Homo sapiens: one gene and its partners. The protein of the gene in region 4 interacts with the protein of the main gene of each other region in a biochemical or structural test. Each region holds a gene or a part of one and is shown on either strand. Other genes may lie near its edges.

Region 1 (5,320 bases), on a different chromosome or scaffold from region 4:
AAATCCCTCGAGAATCCCTGCAGTTGATCAAGAGACTGGGAAATGGGCAGTTTGGGGAAGTATGGATGGGTATGCTGAGACTCAATTACTCTCTTATTAGCTTCCCCGTTTGGAAGATCCCAAACACCAAAGATGGAAGGTGAAAATAAAGACTGCGTGACCGGGAAGAAAGTTTGAATTACTAATAGTGGGGAATAATAATTTCAGTTTTGGTTTTAACATTCTGGAATTCCTAAAAAAAAAAAAAAAAAAAAAAAAAGATAGTAAGTGGGCAAAATTGGCAAATGGCTCAAGTTGTACTATTACATGACTCTCAATTCATAAACCAGCAAATGGTCCAAGGAATGTTCCAGCTGCCATAAAATATCTTGCTCTTCATTTCCAAAAGCAAATATTTGTTGAGTGTCATCCTAACGGGCAAGTCACCTTCCATCTTTCCTAGTGCATGCATAATTATGGATTATAAGGACTGTGTTTTCTTTATTAATTCCCTTTCCTGTAGAGAAAGCTGATGGTTTGTGTTTTAACTTAACTGTGATTGCATCGAGTTGTACCCCACAAACTTCTGGATTGGCTAAAGATGCTTGGGAAGTTGCACGTCGTTCGTTGTGTCTGGAGAAGAAGCTGGGTCAGGGGTGTTTCGCTGAAGTGTGGCTTGGTAAGGCAGAGGGCACATTTTGTTTTGGCTGCATCTCAAAGCCGATTAAAAGGATGGTTTTGAACAAAAATGCACACACAGCCGTTGGGACAAAGACACTTAACCTGGATAACTAGACGGGCACAGGCCATCCAGATTTTCAGAATATGCTGATACCTTGCTGTGCTCATCTGTCCTACTTCATGTGGTTAATTAAGGCACCCGCAGAACAGGAAACCAGTACACTATGAATCTGGTGTTTCCTCTTCCTAAGAAATGGGAAGGTAAGATACTGTATATGGGCAGCCATAAGAAAGACCATGGACGTTTTGCTCAATGGGCCTGGGTTTGAATCCTTACTAGCTAATTAACCACGAACAAGGGGCATATTTAACTCCTTTAAGCCTCAGTTTTTTCATCTGTAAAATTGGAATGATACCTTTTTGTTGTTGTTGAGACGGAGTCTTGCTCTATCACTAGGCTGGAGTGCAATGGCGCGATATTGGCTCACTGCAACCTCCACCTCCCAGGTTCGAGTGATTCTCCTGCCTCAGCCTCCCGAGTAGCTGGGATTACAGGTGCCTGCCACCACGCCCAGCTAATTTTTGTATTTTTAGTAGAGACGGAGTTTCACCATGTTGGCCAGAATGGTCTCGATCTCCTGACCTGGTGGTCTGCCAGCTTCATCCTCCCAAAGTGCTGGGATTACAGGCGTGAGCCACCACGCCCGGCTGGAATGATACTTATTTAAAGGATTATTTTTAGGATTACATGGGTTAATATGTTTAAAGTCCCTTGCAGATAGTAGATATTCAGTAGAGATACATACTTCTCTTTATTTGATTGTCATTGATAAGGCTGGCTGCACTGGGCCTTTGTAATTTCTTTTATAGCCCTTTTGGGTCAGTTACAGCTTTGCTTAGAAACAATTCATGGGTTTAGGCCCCACTCAAAAACATGTTTCAGTAAAACAATATTAATACTTATGGAATCCTCTATCTTCCTTCCTCAGAACTCATTAAAAACAATATCGATCAGTACCCTTTGCTACGTGTGGGTATAGATCTTTAGGTGTGGTCTGCATTAAAAGAGTTAATACAGGTGGCCGGGCACAGTGGCTCACACCTGTAATCCCAGCACTTTGGGAGGCCAAGGCAGGCAGATCACCTGAGGTCAGGAGTTTGAGACCAGCCTGACCAGCATGGAGAAACCCTGCCTCTACTAAAAATACAAAATTAGCCGGGCATGGTGGTGCATGCCTGTAATCCCAGCTACTCAGGAGGCTGAGGCAGGAGAATCACTTGAACCTGGGAGGTGGAGGTTGCGGTGAGCGGAGATCGCACCATTGCACCATTGCACTCCAGCCTGGGCAACAAAAGCGAAACTCCGTCTCAAGAAAAGAAAAAAAAAGAGTTAATACAGTTAAAGCACTTAAAACATAGCCCAGCAAATGATAAGTACTACAAAGATGTATGTAGGTATGTTAGGTGGATAAATAGGTAGTAGACAGACATACACATATATATGTATGAGTTAGCTAGTTTAATAAATCCACATTATTGTGTCCATCTCTCTCTGGACTTAATCTCAAGTATCGTAAAATATATGACCTCCTTCTTCCTCATTCACCCTCTAATAATAGAGGATTTTAGTCAAATTACTCACACAATCACAGAGAATTGGACCCTATTAGAAAATTTATTTTCAAATTTTACAAATATCAACTTTAAATCATTACATATACTGTTCACATTTTGTTTTCCAATAAACACAAGACAACATGCCCATCAGAATTGGGATGGATGTCTGTGTAATTGACGAAGTTTGTATTACAGAGGAAGATCTTAATGTATTTAGAATTTTGGGTGCTGACTCTTAAATAGCAAAGATCACTTATAAATTGTCAAATTTCCCATGAATGCTTAGTGGGCAGATATTTTATGAAGTTTAAATGAACTTTTCTTTAAGCCACTTGTTTTTTCATAATTTATATTTTGTAGGTTGCATGTTGTAATTGTATGAACCATGTCTTTAACAGGATAATAAGAACTCCAATTTACAGAATCCTTAAATTCCAAAGTCAGTTATATTAAATATAAAAATCTTAATTTAAACCAGTCTTCTTTTTCAAATAGAAAATAATCTAAATTAGCAGATTTCTTCCCCTTTATAAAGTTATTCTTAAGCATCATAGGTCTAATAATGGAATACACAAAGAACCTAGGTATGGTTTTGTTTTTTGAATGCTGGGGCTGAAAGAGACCCAAAAGATAATCCAGTTCCATTCCTATATTTTACAGATGAGGTAACTGAGGACAATCATAATCCAGGCCTTGCCTTCAGATTTGCTAGATTTTTTTTTAACATGCTAAATTTAAATATTTCTGTTCCCTCTCAGCTGCTGTTTAATTTCCCCTGTCTACCTACCTGACAGAAGCCATTGTTCTTGTGGCTAGCCATCAGTAAAGCTGAGGAAATTTGCCTTACCTTGTTGAAGTATTGGCAAGCAGACTGTGAGCTCCTTGCCAGTGCTTATCAGCATGCTTGGCACACCTGTGCAAGGACTCAGTCAAGTAACTTGTCCATTGCAGACATTGAAAGTCTAGAGGTAATTTCCAGACATCCTCATGTGGTGCCATATTTTTAAATGGCACACCCCATAAACTTAAATAATCTAATTTCTTCCATGCACACTGTACTCCCTAAGGGACAGCTATTAGATGGCCAGGCCTGTTCCAACCCCTGGACTTTCATCACTGTATGGTGCAGAGCTTTTGGTATAAATGTGTAATCATATGACTGAGCCAAAAAAAGAGAGAGTGGTAATATATCAAAATTTAAAAAAATTTTAATGAGTTATAAATCTTAATATAGCCATCTTAGCCATAACCACAAATAAACTCATTTTTTCTGTTAAAATACTTGACAGAGTCCTTGCAATTGAATGTCTTTGTTCAACAAAAACTGTATTAAGTGTTTTAAATTTAAAATCTAATCTTATGCAAATAGCTGGTGGTCAAAACCTTTTTCCATCAAAAGAAGATCTTTGGTTTGACTTCATATTCTGGGATGTTTGTAGGTACCTGGAATGGAAACACAAAAGTAGCCATAAAGACTCTTAAACCAGGCACAATGTCCCCCGAATCATTCCTTGAGGAAGCGCAGATCATGAAGAAGCTGAAGCACGACAAGCTGGTCCAGCTCTATGCAGTGGTGTCTGAGGAGCCCATCTACATCGTCACCGAGTATATGAACAAAGGTTGGGCAACACCTCTCCTGTCTCCAGCTCACAGTGCCTTAAGGGGTTGTTTAGGGGAGAGAAATGGAAGTTTCCTACTTGCTACTTTTCTAGTTTCTGCCTGGGTCAAGTATTCCCATTAGGAACCACCAGTTATGTGCTCGTTAATGAAAACATTTTTTAAAACAGACTAACCTTGCGTTTACCCCACCCCAAATCCTTATGAAATGCCAAATACTTTTTACATGTTATGTGTGTCAGAAATTCAAGCTCCTCTCCATAATTAAAACATTCATTTTTAATATCAGGGTGGTACGGAGGGTTATGATAGTTTGCTGTTATTTTGAATGTAGTAGCTTTTGTTACATTTCCTTTTTGCAGGGCTAAACAATTAATATCAGACACTGGTCTCTAAGCTAAGTTTAGTCTCCATCATTTCAACATCTTTTTTATTTCCAGCTCTCTTCTTAAACGTCAGGCGATGAAATTACATGCTTTCAGAGACCACATTTATTCTCACATTCTCTCCCCTACAACCCCTCTGTCTTCCTAATCAAACCAGCATTGTTAGGGATAAGGCCAGAGATCATTTTGTTTTGGAAAAATAGATGAACCAAACAAGAAACAGCCTTAAAAGGCAATACATTGTTTATCAGAGGATACCAGTGTAATTTTTCTTTTCCATGTACTTTCTTTTAAAATTTAATGGGAATTTTTTTTTCTGGCAAACGGTTTGTCCTTTGTATCCAGGGTTATTTTGTAAATAACTTTGTGATTAAAGCATAAAATATCACTGATGACCATCATAAGCCTCCAGCTTCTGCAAATGATTATCCCTGCTTTGGTGTTAGTTCTAAGCCTTCTTAGGCTGTGTTATAATAGTGGCTCTGAAGCTTCCAATGTTTCATTTCAGATGTCTGATTTAAGGCTTGGCTGGCTGTGATCTAATTAAGGGGAACCATCTGCCCCACCCATATTCTTCAGATTGTCTTTTCTTGATTCAAAATCTGTAAATAAGCTAAGCTAGTGAGTCTCAAACTTTACCTTGTATTATTAGAATCACCTGTAGGCCTTCTTAAAACCCAAGTTTCTGGACCCAACCTTCAAAGTTTCTGATTTACTCGATCTGGGATGGGACCTGAGAATTTGCATATCTAACAAGTTCCCTTGTGTTATTGTAGCTGCTGGTCCCAGGACCACAGTTTTGGACCACTCAGCTGGGCTGTATTTTCCCCACATCAATTCTTTGTGCAGGGGTGATTGGGGAATGGGATTGAAGAGGTGCAGTTCTTCATAGGTTCCTCTTTATGACATACAGGGAGATTGAGTCCCATTTCTTCTAGTTTTATCAAATATATGTTGTTATTCCTAGAAATGGAATTAATGCTGTTTGTTTTTAAAAGGTAACTGTTACTTCTCCATGCCTATACTTTTTTCTACCCTGC
Region 2 (5,320 bases), on a different chromosome or scaffold from region 4:
ATTGGCCACATGAGGGAGGTGAGAGAAAGTAGTAAGGATAATAAGTTGGAGACTTTGATAGAATTACAGATTGCTAGGTTGAACATATCAGAATAAATGACTAGGAATAATAGGGGTAATTTTCAATAGCACAGATAGTTGAACTTATGATTTTAGAGGTGATGTAATATTTGGAATGAAACCTACAAAGGTGGAATGATGAAAGTGGATGACTGGGAAGTGGAGGGAAAGTCATGGGAGGTGAAGAAGCTAAGAAATGAAGAGACTAGAGTCTTGGATAGATTATTCTTGTCAATGTTGAATTAACCAAAAATGATGACAGACCTTGGAAAGAAGAGAATATACTTAGCCAAGCCTAAAACTAAATGAGGTGGAGTGATTCAGAAATCAATACCTGACACTTCCCAGTGAAGCCGGTGGATAGAAGCTAGTATAGTATGATGGCAGGAATATCAAAGTGCTTGGTTGATTTGAAAGCAAATGAGTAGAAATGGTTTGCAAGTAGAATCAGGGATCAAGGAGAACACGTATCTTTTCTTGAAGCTGTGAGGTAAATGGGGTGTGAGGAGGAAAGTCAACTTTTTCTTAAAAGGGCTGCTGAGTTATTGGTGGTGTCCTTAGCTGACATCCAGGTTTTAATTGGTGGAAAGAAAAAAAAAAGGGTGAAGTGACTGTTGGGAGAAGATGATTAAGATAAATGGGAGTTCACAGATGACAGACGATGGGCATCAGAGGGCAGGGAGGAAGGCACTGATGGGTTAGATGTAAGAGACTGGGTTGTATCTGAGGATACAAATAACCATTCAGGAATAAAAATCTGGGGAATGTGGATGCACTGGGAAGCTTAGACTTGTGATGGCAAGTGAAACAGGTAGAGATTTAAGAGTGACAGATCCTTTGTGTCTTAGATGAAGGTGAGCCATTAATTCCACCTATAATCCTGAGTATTGCTACAGGGCATAGGCTGCCTCGGTGACTACACTCACAAGAGCACAAGGTGTTGTAACAGTTTCCAAAACATCTGGTCCTTCATGCAGCTCATGGTGGTGTTCAAGTGGCCTAAAATTCAGTGATGATATTTTCTTTCACTCAATTACGTAGCAAAGAATGAGGTTTGAAACAGGGTGCCATAATTAGTTTGAATGAGGGTACTATGCTGAAAAAATATATGTCTATATACACACACGTATCTACATGCGTGTGTGTGTATATAAAATCTTACCGAATTGTACATGAGGAGCCTTCTCAGTTTCAGTTATTTGTAACATTATCTATTATCATTAAATATTATTCACTTGACAAATACTTATTTAAGGACTAGTGGAAAGACTGTAGGCAGGGGTGTCTTCCAGAAGAAATTGGTATTTAAACTGATACCTAGAGGGTAAGAAAAGTTATTAGAGCAACCAAAAGGGGAAAGGGTAGTTCAAGCAAGAAAAAAAAAAAAAAGTGTTTATGTGCCAAGAGTTGAAGAACAGCTTGGCCCTTCCAAGAATTGAGGAAGCTGGTTTGGTAGAAGTATTGAGGGACCCAGTAAGGTGTAAGGCTGGAGAAACAGTCAGGGGCGTATCAATAAAGACTTTTTATGCTATTTTGAGGAGGTTTGTTGTCCTCTTATAGTGATGGAAAGCTGTTCATCTTCAGAAGAGCATCTTCTGTTTTGTGTTTTAGAAGGATTAGAGCAGGCGAGATTGAAGACAAAGAGGCCAGTTAGGAAATTGTTGATGTTTTACAAGCGAGAAATGAAGGCAGACTGGATTAAGTAGGAAGAAAGAAAACTAAAAGGATTTGTGTATAGAAATGATGGATCTTTTCTGACTAATTAGGAACTGTGGGTGAGAGGAAAGCAATCTGGAAGGTGTAAACAAATTAAGAATGAACTTTCAAAACATGTGCCAAGTCTCCTAAGAATGTGTTGTCTCCAAAGTTTATTTCTGATCATTTAAAATAACTTACCATTGCTTTTGCAATATAGATCAACATCGGTCTAGTGGTTTCAATTTATATAAGAACAAACTATATTATTTTTCTATCAAGCAGCTCTGAAGAAGGAGACATAGTCTGTTACATATATATCTTTAGTGCATACTAGCCCTGTCAAAAGGACTAAATGCCTGAGCAATTTAAAGAAAAAAAATCAGAGGCAAACCGAAAAATTATGGCCTATAGGGAGCATATGCAAATTTCACAAAAATTAATGAAATGCTTTTCCTTAGGGAGCATCTTATGATGCAATAAGCCAATATTTACATTTTAAAGGAGTTTTTCTGTTTTTTTTTTTTTTTTCAGAGACTTCCTTCATATAGGAGCTGGAGGACACAGCACATTGGAAATCAAGAAGAAAATAAAAGTAAAAACAGGAATTCTAATGTCATCCCATGTATGTAGTTTATTTTTTTATTTTTTGTATCAGATAAAGTTAAGCTCTTTTGGATTTGTTTAATGTGGGACACACAGTCATATAAATTATCTTGAAGCAAGTTTTCAACATTTGGTTGTTAATAGGGAAGAAGTTACTAGGTATTAAAATACTAGTTATTGCAAGAACTTATAATCCTGAACATTTACAATGGGCTTTGGAGGGTAGACTGTATTCAGTGTTTTCTTTTTACCAATTATTTCAGAAATGGGTTGTCATAAAAGAGAAATATATAAAGCTGGGAGAAAAAAGAGCAAGTCTCTTTTACCCATTTTCTTTCATTTTTAGTTTATTTCAGTTATTTACTCCAGGGTAATTGACAAATAGTAAAAATTACATCCATTTGTTCTCTATATGTTTCCTTTTTATCCCTTATAACTGGGAGGTTGAAAGTAAGGGGAAAATACTCTATAAATTCTAAATCTTCAAATTTAACAGATCAAAATATGCACAGTTTCAATACTTGAATTCTACTATTTAAGCATATTAAAATGATCACATATGGTAATTTTATTCAGCTGCATAAACTAAAATTAGCATGGATAAAATATAACACAAGTTGATAAATTAGATGACCAAATAAATCAGATCAGTGCATGGTTGACCTAGTTAATTTTCATAGGAGTCCTTATGAATGTAGTTTAAAATATGGAATTGATGGTGATATGGTTAATCAAATCATTTGACCAAGTTATTATAAATTATAGAAATTAAGAAACAGTGAGAAATTATAGGTCAAATAATTTTCTGGGCTAAATAATTAATCAAAGCTACCCATATAAGATTGTTAATTTAATATTACTGGAGTATAATTGAGGGAAAAAATCTACGCTATGTATTTTGTAAACTTATATCAAGCAGAATTATAATAGTCCATGGGAAATTAAAGTATATGTATCAAAGATTAAATAATCATATATAATGATATGATATCTCTTTGTTGTTTGACATGGAATTATGTTCCATGTTTTTTCCTGGAATCCTTTTTCTTAGACTTTTGTTGTATAATTTGTTTATCGACAAGTACTGAATTTTATATAGGATCTTATTTCATGTAGATCAGTAAGTTTTCATAATACAATCTGTCCCTTTTTAAATACTTTCAAATTTCCACATGACAATGAAGAAGAAATTTAATTTTTTCAAGGAAGACTTACTACTGATTTATTTCACATAGATGACTATAACAGAGTGCCACTTAAACATGAGCTGGAAATGAGTAAAGAGAGTGAGCATGATTCAGATGAATCCTCTGATGATGACAGTGATTCAGAGGAACCAAGCAAATACATCAATGCATCTTTTATAATGGTAGGTACTTAAATTGCCAAAACCCAAGATCCAAACATTTTAAAATAATATCTATGTTATTAGGGCCATTCATTAAGCGATTTTATAAAAGAATAATGAGCTTGGTCATAACTACATATAGATTGACATGAGAGTTTCAATTTCAATGCTACAATTTAACTTAATGAAAGATTTAAAAATACTATAACCTAATAACCTGAGACAAAATAAGATAATGCTATTGGTTATATTTTATGACAAATATAGCTATAATCACATCAATTTTAAAAATAGTAAAATTTGAGCAAATACAAGTATTTGAAAATGTTTATACATACTCAGATACCCAAATTGTAGGCAATGACAAATTTGTATATTTGTATGGTTAGAAACTTTTCATTCAGATAAACTGAATTATTAGGTGAGTCTGTGTCATATCCCCCCACTTTTTTAATTAACTGAGAATTCAAACAATGAAACTTTAGTCATTTATTAAATATTTATTATTTATACACTGTTGGATTTACTTATTTTCCAAAGTTTCCTAAAGCACACATTCATAGAATATTAGTTTAATTAGGAAATATAATAAGAATGTAAAGACACTAATTAAAATTAGTATAGACACGATGAAGGTAATTTGAAATGCTTAAGTAATTCCTTTTTACAATCACATTAACCTTTATAGAGAAACAAAAATGTGTGTCTTTTGTGGAAAGGAAAATTTGTTTCGCAAGATATGTTGTAATCTTGATTTCACATTATTAGCTAAGAATTACTATTATCTGTATAATTATTTTACATATAGCTATTACATTGTTTCTTGTAAGAAACATAAGAATATTACTATTTGTATGTAACAGCATTGATATCAAACTGACTATATTTCCAAATGGTTACTTTAAGAATCTACTGAGCTCTCTTCTGTAGTAACGAAGTCCCACCCTTTTTTTGTCTAAAAAGAGCTACTGGAAACCTGAAGTGATGATTGCTGCTCAGGGACCACTGAAGGAGACCATTGGTGACTTTTGGCAGATGATCTTCCAAAGAAAAGTCAAAGTTATTGTTATGCTGACAGAACTGAAACATGGAGACCAGGTTTGTACTTTTGAGGATTTTCTTTTAAGCCTTTCTGTCATAAAACGTCATTCTCTAGTCTTGGATTGCTTGCTTCATCGCCATACCCACGTCTTTTTTTATCCCTCCATCACATAATTCTGTCTGCTCAGTCTTACCCCTTTCACCCTGGTGTTGGCCTCCATCAGCTGTGTCTGGATTCTGACAGTCTCTCCTGTTTGTCCCCTCCAGTCTTGCATGCTGCTCACAGATTAGCCAGGATGCAGCAATGTCAGCGTCACAGCAAATAACAGCTACATTTTCACGCTGTTTTCCTCATTTTCTCAAGATAAAAGCCAAGATCTTTTTGTGATATCCAGCACCCTGGACAATCACCCCCTCATGTGTCTTTCATCTTCCTCCCATTTTTATGTTTTCCATCCTCTCCACTCTGGACAAGCAGGTTTCATGCCCAAGCCTAAACACGCCATTTGCATTGTCATCACTGAGTCTAAACTTATTGATATTCCATGTAACTAAATGTGTGCTGTCTTC
Region 3 (5,320 bases), on a different chromosome or scaffold from region 4:
TCCTCTTCTTAAAAGGAAAAGGTACGCTAAACAACACTGCTACCTGCAAAATGCATTGCCTTAACCAAAGAAAATGCAATCGGGCAGTCCATTATGATAATGACCCTTCATCACACTGGGAAACGGTATCATTTGTAGTAACATCTGGGCTTGCCATATTTGAAGATAAGCTATGGCATGTTGGAAAGAGCACTGGATCAACAATCAAAGAATTTGGTCTCTGCCCTTGATTTTATTTTCACCCACCTTCAGGGGTGTTTTAAGGGCAGTGAAAACATTTAGGGCTATTTTGAAATAACATGTACTACAAACTTCATTTATTATTATTATTACTATTATTATTTTTGAGACAGGGTCTTACTCTGTTGCCCAGGTTGGAGTGCAGTGGCAATATCTTGGCTCACCACAGCCTTCCAGGGTTAAGCAAACTTCCAGGGTCAAGCAATCCTCCCATCTCAACCTCCTGAGTAGCTGGGACTACAGGCATGCACCACCACACCCGGCTATTTTTTATATTTTTTGTAGAGATGAGGTTTTGCCATGTTGGCCAGGCTGGTCTTGAACTGCTGACCTCAAGATCTGCCTGCCTTGGCATCCCAAAGTGCTAGGATTATAGGTGTGAGCTGCCACTGAACCCAGACTCAGTTATAATTAATGTGCTTGATCTCATCACATTGTGAGTGACCCAGGTCAAAATCTGTATGACTGCATGAAAAAAAGGCTATAAATACACACTAAATACACACAAATCACCACTCATTTTGACTTGTTATTATTTCTTTTTTTTTTCTGAGACGGAGTCTCGCTCTGTTGCCCATGCTGGAGTGCAGTGGTGCAATCTCGGCTCACTGCAAGCTCCGCCTGCCAGGTTCACGCCATTCTCCTGCCTCAGCCTCCCGAGTAGCTGGGACTACAGGCACCCGCCACCATGCCTGGCTAATTTTTTTTGTCTTTTTAGTAGAGACGGGGTTTCACCGTGTTAGCCAGGATGGTCTCGATCTCCTGACCTCGTGATCCACCCGCCTCGGCCTCCCAAAGTGCTGGGATTGCAGGCATGAGCCACTGCGCCTGGCCTAATTTTTGACTTTTATGATACCTTTCCCCTTTGCTCTTCCCTAAGTCTGAACTTATTTGTCATTTTGGATATAGTAGATATAAATTCATCAATAGAAAAGTGACTATATAATATGTATAATGAAAGAGATACGTATTGTATTTAAAACAGGATCAAAGGTTATAAATTTGACTTGAAAGACCTTCCTTGAAAGGATTCCTAGCGCCCAGAACAAATTGTAGTAAGTCACAAAAGAGGTTTTAGAAATAGTTAATACCTGAAATTCATCCTTGAGATGTGAAGAGTTAGTCTGGGAGTCTATTCTAATCATATCAAAATATGCAGCTTTAAATTCACAGACAGGTATGGCAGTTTCTCCACATAAGCAGGCTTCTAAAATGGCATCATGAATAAAAATGTACTGTTCCTACCAAAAGAATGAAAAAGAAAATTTTGTACTAGTTTTAGTATCACTTTTCTGTCATCAAAGTTAGGAAATACAGAAAATTTTCTCTATATGGAAATATGAATTAAAACACCAATATTTTTCTATATGACTCAGCTAATATTGATTACACATGAAAAACATCTCTTTCGGTTGAGTAGAGTATATATGAGAGACATCTACTCTTTGTTTGCAAAAAAAATAAAAAATAAAAAAAAGTCCACTACAGGTAAATCTACATACCTCTGTCTGGACCATATTAATACGCCGAGATCTTAAGGCTTTGACACAATTGTAAATATCAACAACACCCTCTCTTTCAGCCATGTCTAGCATGATGTCAATCACAATGTAGCAGCCAGTTCGTCCAGCACCAGCACTGAAAAACAATTAAATTTAATGAATTGTAAGAAGCATGTTAGTCTTCATAACCTTAAATAAGGACTTTTTCCACTGTCAGATAGGTAGAATCAAATTGATTTAACAAACTGCAAGGCACAGCACTTGTCCCTGCTGTGTAAAAGCTTATTAATGTACAAATAGCTTCATGCAGAGTATCTGCTTTGGTATAAACTAAAGATTGGAACAAGAGTTCTAAATTATTTTCAAATTGAAAATAACACTGTTTAAGTTCCACACCTCTCTCACAATTTTCATTTTATGTAAATTTAATACACATAATTTCAAGTTCATAGAATTGATCAAGTGGCAGATTCACGCTTCAAAATTTAACTCAAGATTGAATATTTTTAGATTCATCTAGTTGTGTGTCCTCTGGCAACAATGTGAGAATGTTGGCTCACTCACTGTCTTCACCTCTTGTAAATACCAAGGCAAAAGAAAATTAATTCCCAAAACTTTAAACGGGAAATCTGAGGAGCCACGCTTCACAGGAAATGCAAATGGTGGGGGTGGGCAAGAGAATGACGGTTATCAAAGGGGAGGAGAGTAACAGTGTAAAGACTATTTGAATCATGATCTGAAGAGAAATGAAAATGAATTATTAGGTGTAGAATATGATTCCCAGCAAATCAAAAGGCTAGCCGCTATCTTACTGTATTTAATTCTAAAGTTAATTTTTAAAAATACTTTTAAAAAATTATATTTTAGTCTTTAATTGGCAAATAATAATGTATATATTCTTGGGTACATAGTGATATTTTAATACACATAATGTAGAGTGATCAGAAAAGGGTGATTGGCATATGCGTCCTCTCAAACATGTATCATTTATGTTGTGAACATTCAGTATCTTCCTTCTAGCTCTCTCAAACTAAACATTATCATTTACCAGACTCATCCTACAGTGGTACAGAACACTAAAATGTATTCCTCTATCTCACCATATTTTGTGTCCTTTAATTGTAATATACTGTGATTATTTTGCAGCTGGGGAATGTTTCTCCAATTTTATATATAGAAGTCAATGGGGAAAACAAAATAAGGATTTTTTGCGGGGAGTGGGGAATTCACTTTGTAGTCCAGAGATGCTTCAGTGTAGGTGGAAAATGACACTTCTGTTTCAAGAGAGTATCTGAGAATCTTGGAGCATTTCTGAAGCAAGCAATTCATAAGAAAGTAAACCTCTCTGATAAATCAAGAAATTCTTAAGTTGAAAACCTATTTATCTCATTTTCTAAGTGCTTAGATAGGCTAGTAACATTATTTCCTTGTTATTCAGATTTGGTCACTTCTCTTAAACTCACTGTTCTTTTAGAAATTTAAGCAAAAGATATTGTGGCTATCTCTATTTATCTTTGTCCCCTACCATCTTCTCAATCACTGTTCCCAGAGTTGGAGACAGGAATGTAATTTAAGAGTACATCAGATTTCATGAGGAGGATTGAAAGGAAGTTTTTTTTGTTTTCAGGGTACATAGTATCTGATCCTATGGGACGTTTTACCTTTACTTCATTCTCTGCTTTTTTTCCCCTCTTTTATACATGGTTATTTAAATCCTGAATAGGTTGGATTTTCAGAAAGCAAAAAATGCTTAGGTACAACCTATTATGTAGCTTGGAGGGAAGAGCGTATGAGAATGGTGTGCAGCATCATTTAGGAAACGCTTTTCAGATTCAGTACTTATTTTTCTGGTCACACCTCAAAATGAGGCCATGTAATTTGCTTTTAGTATCTCTAAATGCTTGTTTTAAGAGAAGTTTCTAATCAGAAGAAAGTCTGGATATAATGCTCGTGTTTTTTGGCATATATTTGCTGAATCTCACTGATGCAGTTTTCAAGGTCCTCTAATGTGAATTCTTTAAAAAAAATTTTTAAATAGCTGTTTTGCAGCACAAATCCTTGCAATTTAGGCCATTTAGTAACTCTGTATGTCTGAAATTTAGTTTTAAAGCTGGAATTCTATTGGGAATTTTCTAGATTGGCAAGAAATGTCTATTTCAACCTAGCATTCTATACAATATGGGATTTGCAAAAGTGATAAAAACAAAAAACACAGATGTTGCCATTAAAAGGCAGAGTTTCTATACTTTAAATTGTGGATAACACTACACGCATTAGGATGAATGTATGTATTTCTTAAGTTCCTGTTTTATAGACTACTTACAGCCAACTTTTATTTTATTGCTGTTTTACTTTATCTATAATACAAGCAAGCTGGAACTTCGTAAGCACACATTAGTTTTTGTGCTCAAAAGCCTTGTCTTGATACTCTAAAAAAAGCTGATTGCATACAGTCAATACCATTTGGACCACCACTTACCTGCAATGTACAACGATGGGGCCAGCACTGGGAGGGTTTGATAACTTGACTCGCCGGATAAAGGAAAGCAGCCCTGTAGCATGGTAGGGCACTCCATGGTCAGGCCAGCCCGTGAAATGGAACTGTTTAACTTCACGGATTTCATTGTACCCCCTCTGTGCAAAGATGGAAAGAAATGTTTTCAAAAGCCATTTTAATGGCCAAAATAAAGCCATTAAACACAATTATGGGTACAGACCCAACTGACAATGATAACAATAAAACCTTTACGAAAGACTATGCCTTTTCTTAAAAAAAAAATATAATAAAATGAAGGCCTAACATGGACTAGGAGCTTACCTTTATTGTCAGACAACTGCCAAAGAAAGAAAATTATAAGTCTTGCTCAGTTCTAAAAGTCTGGGTAAATTTTATTTACTTTGACAGCTTGTTTCTTGCTGGGAGTGACAACACATTAAATTATTAGGGGAAAAGAAGGAAATGGGAAAGCTAAAATGCTGCCCCATTGACCCAATGCATTGAGTTCTCAAGTGGTGTATAAAAGCAACTTTCCAGCTTCTCACCTCACAAAGAGATTTTAATGCCTTGCTTATCCATGTTGAAAATGGTTTTGAAGCATAGCATGTAGGGATTTTCCAGGACAGTGCTGCTCTAGATTGGCTTGTGAAAATATACAGGCAGCTAAACTGTTCTTTGGGCAAACTATTTTTCTTAGCTCTGTGAAATAATTCAGCGCAGTATTATTTATAGTAACAAAAATACAAAATGAAAGAAGTGAAGCATCTGCTGTTGTGCTGCTCTCCTATTGGGTTAATTTAAGAGAACCCTGTAAATGCACATTTCAAAGCTTTTTCCTTCCTTTTTTTAGAAGAAGTCTGTAGACTGAGGTAGCACAGCTTGGAAGGTATAGATGAAATATTGCCGAATTTATTTTTAAGAACTCACATTTGTAGCAAAAGGAAAAAAAATCCCACTATAATCTATATAATTCAAATTCTACTGTGAACTATCTGTGAACTATCAATCTCACTTGTTCAATCAGAAAAGGTAGACACATTACATGAAATAAACAAAACTGAGAAAAACAGTTTATCTTTAG
Region 4 (5,320 bases):
TTCCAGGGAGGTGATGGAGATGAGCTGGTGAGGGCAGAACAGACATATGGCACTCTGAAGCCAACAGGCTGCGCCTGATGCCATCCAGGGCAGGGATGGGAGCCCCGCCAGGCTGGGAGCAGTGGTTCCAGCTGGAAGCCACTTATTCCTGGGTCCAAGCCCCAGTTCTCTGAGTTTAACTTATCTGAGTCCCAATTTCCTGGGAAATGGCATGGGAGACCTCCTTTTCCATTTCTGGGAGGGCCAGAGATGATGACGCACAGCACTTGGCACATCATAGGTGCCCAGTAAATGGTGACTAACAACAGTATATGATTACTCCAGTGGGGAGAGCGGGTATGGCTTCCTGAGGGAGGTGGCCTTGAGCTAGGCCTCCAGGGTTTCTTGAGTTTTTTGGCAGATGATGCCAGGGAAAGGTATGGCCAGGGCTCTGTGAGAGATGAAAGGCATCTGGGAGAAATGGCAGGGAGAGATCTGTTGGGCTAGAAACTGGGGCTCTTCAGCAAACAGGTAGGTGATGGCCTGGGAAGGAGGCAGCAGGAGGCCAGGGAAGGAGGCAGGGAGACTTCAGGAAAGGTCTGCGGTGCTGTGTGAGGATTTTCTCTGGACCACCAACTTTTCAAGGTGTTGATAGTGATGGCGGGTAGTAGCTGCTGGCTTGGCAGGGCAATGCTGTAACTCCAGGCACTGTGGGGAGGGGGCCTCCATGCAGGAGGATGACACCAGCAGGCTGGCATTTAGTGGGAGGCTGTGGATTAGGATGGGGACAGTGGAGGCTGCAAGGCCAGTGTTGGGGATGAAGCCGTCCCAAACTCAGCCTGAACTCCCTGGCAGGACAAGCTACATAATTTGTGGGGCAAGCACAAAATGGAAATGCAGGGCTCTTTGTTAAAAATTATTAACAATTTCAAAATGATGACTGCAGAGCATTAAACCAAACATAGGCCCTTCTAAGCATGGGGCCCTCAGGAGGATGAGTACTCATGAAGCCATCTCTGTGCCCTGGACTAAAGGGGAGGCCATCTGTCTGTCTCCATCGATTTATCCATCCATCCATCCATCCATCCACCCACCCACCAATCCATTTATGCATCTCTACATGCATTTATTTATCTAGTGATTATTTCACTATCCATTCAGCAGATAGGCCCTGGGTTGGACACTGATAAGGACACAAATACAGGTGAGATGGGAGCCACCCACAGTCCACCAGGTCAAACCTGCACCTTTACCTTCAATGCTCTGGGCCAGGAGGGGCCAGGGCTTCTGTGACATGTTTAGAAAGCTGAGCCCTACCCCTCTAAGGCTAACTGGAAACCCTGCCCCACCCTATAACCACTGAGGCTCAGCCTCAGAAGTGAAGAAGCTGGTGGTGTCACTGCCCTTGGGTTTCCACTTCTCAGAAGGGAAGGTAACAGAGCAGCAGCAATGAGGATGTGGCAAAACAGTCACAAGAAGCATGGTAGGAACTCTCAGGGGCTAAGGGCAGAGCTGGATGGACCTCTGGGGGCCACTAAACTTCTCCCTTGGCTTCTCCCCACTTTATTATAAGAGGAAACTATGATTAGAATGAAGAAGTGGTATGGCCAAAAGCTCGGGGGTCCAGCAAACCACCCAGGAAGATTCCCATTTCTTGTTGGGACGGCTTTGCTCCTTTTCAGCCCATAGCCCAGACAGACCTGGAGGCTGAGCCCTGAACCACAGAGGTGGAGCTGGGTCTCTCCAGGCCTTCAGAGAGATGGTAAAGACCCAGCACCTGTGGTGGAACAAAGGCGAGCCCAGGTCCCAGGCTCAGCGTCATCACCAATGATCTGTACGGACCTTAGGTGCAACCCTTCCCCTCTCTGGACCTTAGTTCCCATCCATACAATAAAGCAGTTGGATCAGGTGACCCCCAAAAGTCCTTTTCATCTCTGACATTCAGGAACTTTCAGACCCCCTGACCCTCCCAAGGGACAGCCCTCTCCATCACAGGGCGGAGAAGCTGGTACCTCTGGCAGATAAAAGGTTTCAGGCACCTGAGACATCAAATAGCCCTGATCTGAATTGAGGAGAGGAGGGGATTTTAATGCGGTTAAAGCAGTACACTTTGATTTTCAGCCTCCTGCACCAGGCTGGGGGTGGGCTACCCCAGGAAGCATCTGGTGGATGTAGGGGGCGGGGGCAGGGTGGGCTCTGGGGCTAAGGCTTGGAGGTTCAGGAAGACTTTATCCTGAGGATCTGGGCCTGAGGGCTCAGGAGGGATGTGAAGTGGGCTTCCACACTGGAAGCAACAAGCATGGGAATTTCACACCCACTCCCACCAGAGGTAGGTCCCTGTGTCCATTCCCCCCCTCACCTCTGGATCCCATCACTCATCTGGGCCAAAGCCTTGCTTCCTCTTGAAATTAGAGCATATGAGGTTTGAAAACGCAGCACTGGAAGAGACCTAAAGGGTTACAGCATCCACACACAGCCCCTAGTGGGCCTTCCTCCCCGACCCTCCCTGCTCAGTATCTCAGGAAAATGGGCATGTGGGAACTGTAGGAGCCCTCTGAGCTCCTCAAGAAACTGAGCACGTTAAGGGGCCACACTAATTGTCAGAAAGTTCCTCATTGTTATTGCAGGTTAAAGTTTTCCATTAGTGGTCATCGATCCTGACCTCTTTCTGTAATGTGTAGAAAAAGGGTAAGAAAAAAACCCTTTCATTGTGAAATTAAATATGCATGATCCCTGAGTACACAGCAAGGCTTGTGCAGCTGCCAATCTGGGCTGGCATGGCTTGGAATCCTGAAATTGTTTTAGGGCTGGAAGAAAGATTTACCATCATCTGGGTCAACCTCCTCGTTTGACTGATGGGAAAACTGAGGCCCCAGAAGGGAACGATCTGTGCACAGTCCCATAGGGTTCTAGGGTCTGATGACTACCTCTGGAATGCTGAGGGCCCCCACAGCTGAGGCACATTCTCAGGGTTTACACTGGATCCCCAGGGGCATCCCAGGCCCCATCCAGCCTCTCATCAAGGGGATCTGGAGTCAGAAACACCCAGGTGCAAATCCCAGCTCCGCCACTTCCGAGCTGTGGGACTTTAGGCAACTGACTCTGCGCACTTTCTCACCTGTAAAATGGGGAGAGTTTAGCTGGGTGCGGTGGCTCACGCCTGTAATCCCAGCACTTTGGGAGTCTGAGGCAGGCGGATCACTTGAGGTCAGGTAGTTCGAGACCAGCCTGGCCAACACGGTGAAACCCCATCTGTACTAAAAATATAAAAATTAGCTGGGCATGGTGGCGCACACGCCTGTAATCCCAGCTACTTGGGAGGCTGAGGCAGGAGAATCACTTGAGCTTGGGAAGCGGAGGTTGCGGTGAGCCAAGATCATACCATTGCACTCCAGCCTGGGCAACAGAGTGAGACTCCATCTCAAAAAAAAAAAAAAAAAAAAGTGGGGAGAGTTTATATATCTAATTTTGAGGTTGCTGTGACGGTTTATTTATTTATTTATTTATTTTTTTTGAGACAGTCTTGCCCTGTCGCTTAGGCTCACTGCAATCTCCGCCTCCTGGATTCAAGCAATTCTAGTGCCTCAGCCTCCTGAGTAGCTGGGATACAGGTGCGCACCACCACGTCTGGCTAATTTTTGTATTTTTAGTAGAGACAGGGTTTCACCATGTTGGCCAGGCTGGTCTCAAACTCCAGACCTCGGGTGATCCACCCGCCTCGGCCTCCCAAAGTGCTGGGATTACATGTGTGAGCCACCGTGCCCAGCCTCGATGGTTAAATTAATCCAGTAAATATTTACTAAGAATGTCCTGAATGCCCAGCATGTTCCAAGTGCTGAGGAATACAGCAGCAACTTTGAGGTAACAGATGTAAAGCACAATTGAAGTAGACACAGAAAGTGCTAAGAACGAGTTGGTTCCTGTTATATCATCATGCTCACACTGCTTCCCAGCTGAGGTGCTACAAGCCCTGACCCTGGGAAGGGGCCCAACACCCCTTCCCTTCCCTCCTAACGCTCTGGGTCAGAAGACAGGGGGCACCAAAAAGATTCCCATTCCAAGAACCCACTGCCCACTGGGTTCTGAATCAAATGCAAGAAATGGGTGGGCATTTCAGAAGACCTTTTCATCCCTTTCTCCCTTCCCACTGCATTCAGCAGCAGCCTGTTCTGAGCCAATGCCCAGAGCACCCTCCTTTAGCCTAGAAGGCAGCTGGTCTCAGAGTCAGACTGTGGCCTGTGCCTGGAGGATGGACACGGATCTTTGGAACATACATGGTGTCCAGGTCCCTTCTGTGGGCAGAGCCTTTTGCAGGTTGCAGATTAATTTCACAGCCAAGTGTTCCAATGCAGGAGGCCAGGAGAGCAGTGGTTCTCTCAGCCAGTGGCCAGAGGTCCAGCTGTGAAGTGCAGGAACTGTGGTAAGCACCTTGCCAATGCTGTTGTCTCATGGAGCCCACACACGGTCCTGCTGCTCACAGAGAAGGAGATTGAGGCCCAGAGAGGCAAGGTGCTGCCCCGGGGTCACACAGTCAGCCAGAAACTGACTCGGGGTCAATGCATAGTCATCTGATGCCCAAGCCTGGTGCTGGTTACCCACAGCGCTCACTGCCTCCCAGCTGCGGAAGGAGCCCAGAGATGGGATGTGGGGGGTCTGAGGTTGGCCACACGGTGGATTTAAATCAAGCCAGGGCAAGCACTGGGTCTCCTGACTCTGGATCCACGGTGCTTTCCACTGCCTGCCCCACATGTGTGGGCAATTATAAGTCCCAGCTCTTCTTCCCGCAGAGGAGGGGGGCTGCTGATAACTGCTGTCTGGGAGGAGGGTGCTGACCAGATGGTCTCTTTCCTCTCTCAAGACCAAGCCAGGGCCCGGGCAGACCTTGGAGCAGTCAGACCTGAGGCTGCACTTTCTGCTGGGGAAGGTGCTGAAGCCAGGAGCAGGCTCTGCAGGAGGATGGAGATTCTTCCCTCTGACTGGGAGCTTCCCGGGGAGCACGAGGTAAGCCTTTAGAGTCAGGCAGACTTCAGCCTAAACACCACCTTAACTCACCGTATGGCCCTGGGAAAGTCACTTAGCCTCTCCAGATCTCAGCTTCCTCATCTACAAAAAGTAGGTAATAACACTGATTTCAAAAACTTGCCATGAGGACTCCAAGGTGTGTGAAGTACCAGGCTCTATGCCTGCATGAGGTAGGTGTTCAGGGACTGTATGTCCCTGAAGGCTGTGGATTCAGGGTCTCCTGCTTGGAGACAGGGGAGGACTGCATGACTTCAGAACTTGTCACTAGAGGCCTCTGTGCAATTGGGAGGTCACAGAGGGAAGCAGAGATACTCCTCCC

What was found. The genes of interacting proteins can lie anywhere in the genome.
Region 1: the proteins of PDGFRB (region 4) and FYN form a complex in vitro, tested with the Homo sapiens proteins (one study listed by BioGRID).
Region 2: of the proteins of PDGFRB (region 4) and PTPRC, one has a biochemical effect on the other in vitro, tested with the Homo sapiens proteins (one large-scale study listed by IntAct).
Region 3: of the proteins of PDGFRB (region 4) and PTPRK, one has a biochemical effect on the other in vitro, tested with the Homo sapiens proteins (one large-scale study listed by IntAct).

The regions. Positions count from the first base shown.
Region 1 is NC_000006.12:111,694,853-111,700,172, reverse strand, and holds part of FYN (tyrosine-protein kinase Fyn), read left to right. Parts: coding exon 1-69; intron 70-502; coding exon of another isoform or gene 503-658; intron 659-3,716; coding exon 3,717-3,896; intron 3,897-5,320. UniProt on the Homo sapiens protein: Non-receptor tyrosine-protein kinase that plays a role in many biological processes including regulation of cell growth and survival, cell adhesion, integrin-mediated signaling, cytoskeletal remodeling, cell motility, immune response and axon guidance.
Region 2 is NC_000001.11:198,745,820-198,751,139, forward strand, and holds part of PTPRC (receptor-type tyrosine-protein phosphatase C isoform 1 precursor), read left to right. Parts: intron 1-2,289; coding exon 2,290-2,380; intron 2,381-3,596; coding exon 3,597-3,730; intron 3,731-4,672; coding exon 4,673-4,807; intron 4,808-5,320. UniProt on the Homo sapiens protein: Protein tyrosine-protein phosphatase required for T-cell activation through the antigen receptor. Acts as a positive regulator of T-cell coactivation upon binding to DPP4.
Region 3 is NC_000006.12:127,981,500-127,986,819, forward strand, and holds part of PTPRK (receptor-type tyrosine-protein phosphatase kappa isoform b precursor), read right to left. Parts: intron 4,377-5,320; coding exon 4,222-4,376; intron 1,879-4,221; coding exon 1,743-1,878; intron 1,482-1,742; coding exon 1,332-1,481; intron 1-1,331. UniProt on the Homo sapiens protein: Regulation of processes involving cell contact and adhesion such as growth control, tumor invasion, and metastasis. Negative regulator of EGFR signaling pathway. Forms complexes with beta-catenin and gamma-catenin/plakoglobin.
Region 4 is NC_000005.10:150,148,460-150,153,779, forward strand, and holds part of PDGFRB (platelet-derived growth factor receptor beta isoform 1 precursor), read right to left. Parts: exon of another isoform or gene 3,880-5,320; intron 1-3,879. UniProt on the Homo sapiens protein: Tyrosine-protein kinase that acts as a cell-surface receptor for homodimeric PDGFB and PDGFD and for heterodimers formed by PDGFA and PDGFB, and plays an essential role in the regulation of embryonic development, cell proliferation, survival, differentiation, chemotaxis and migration.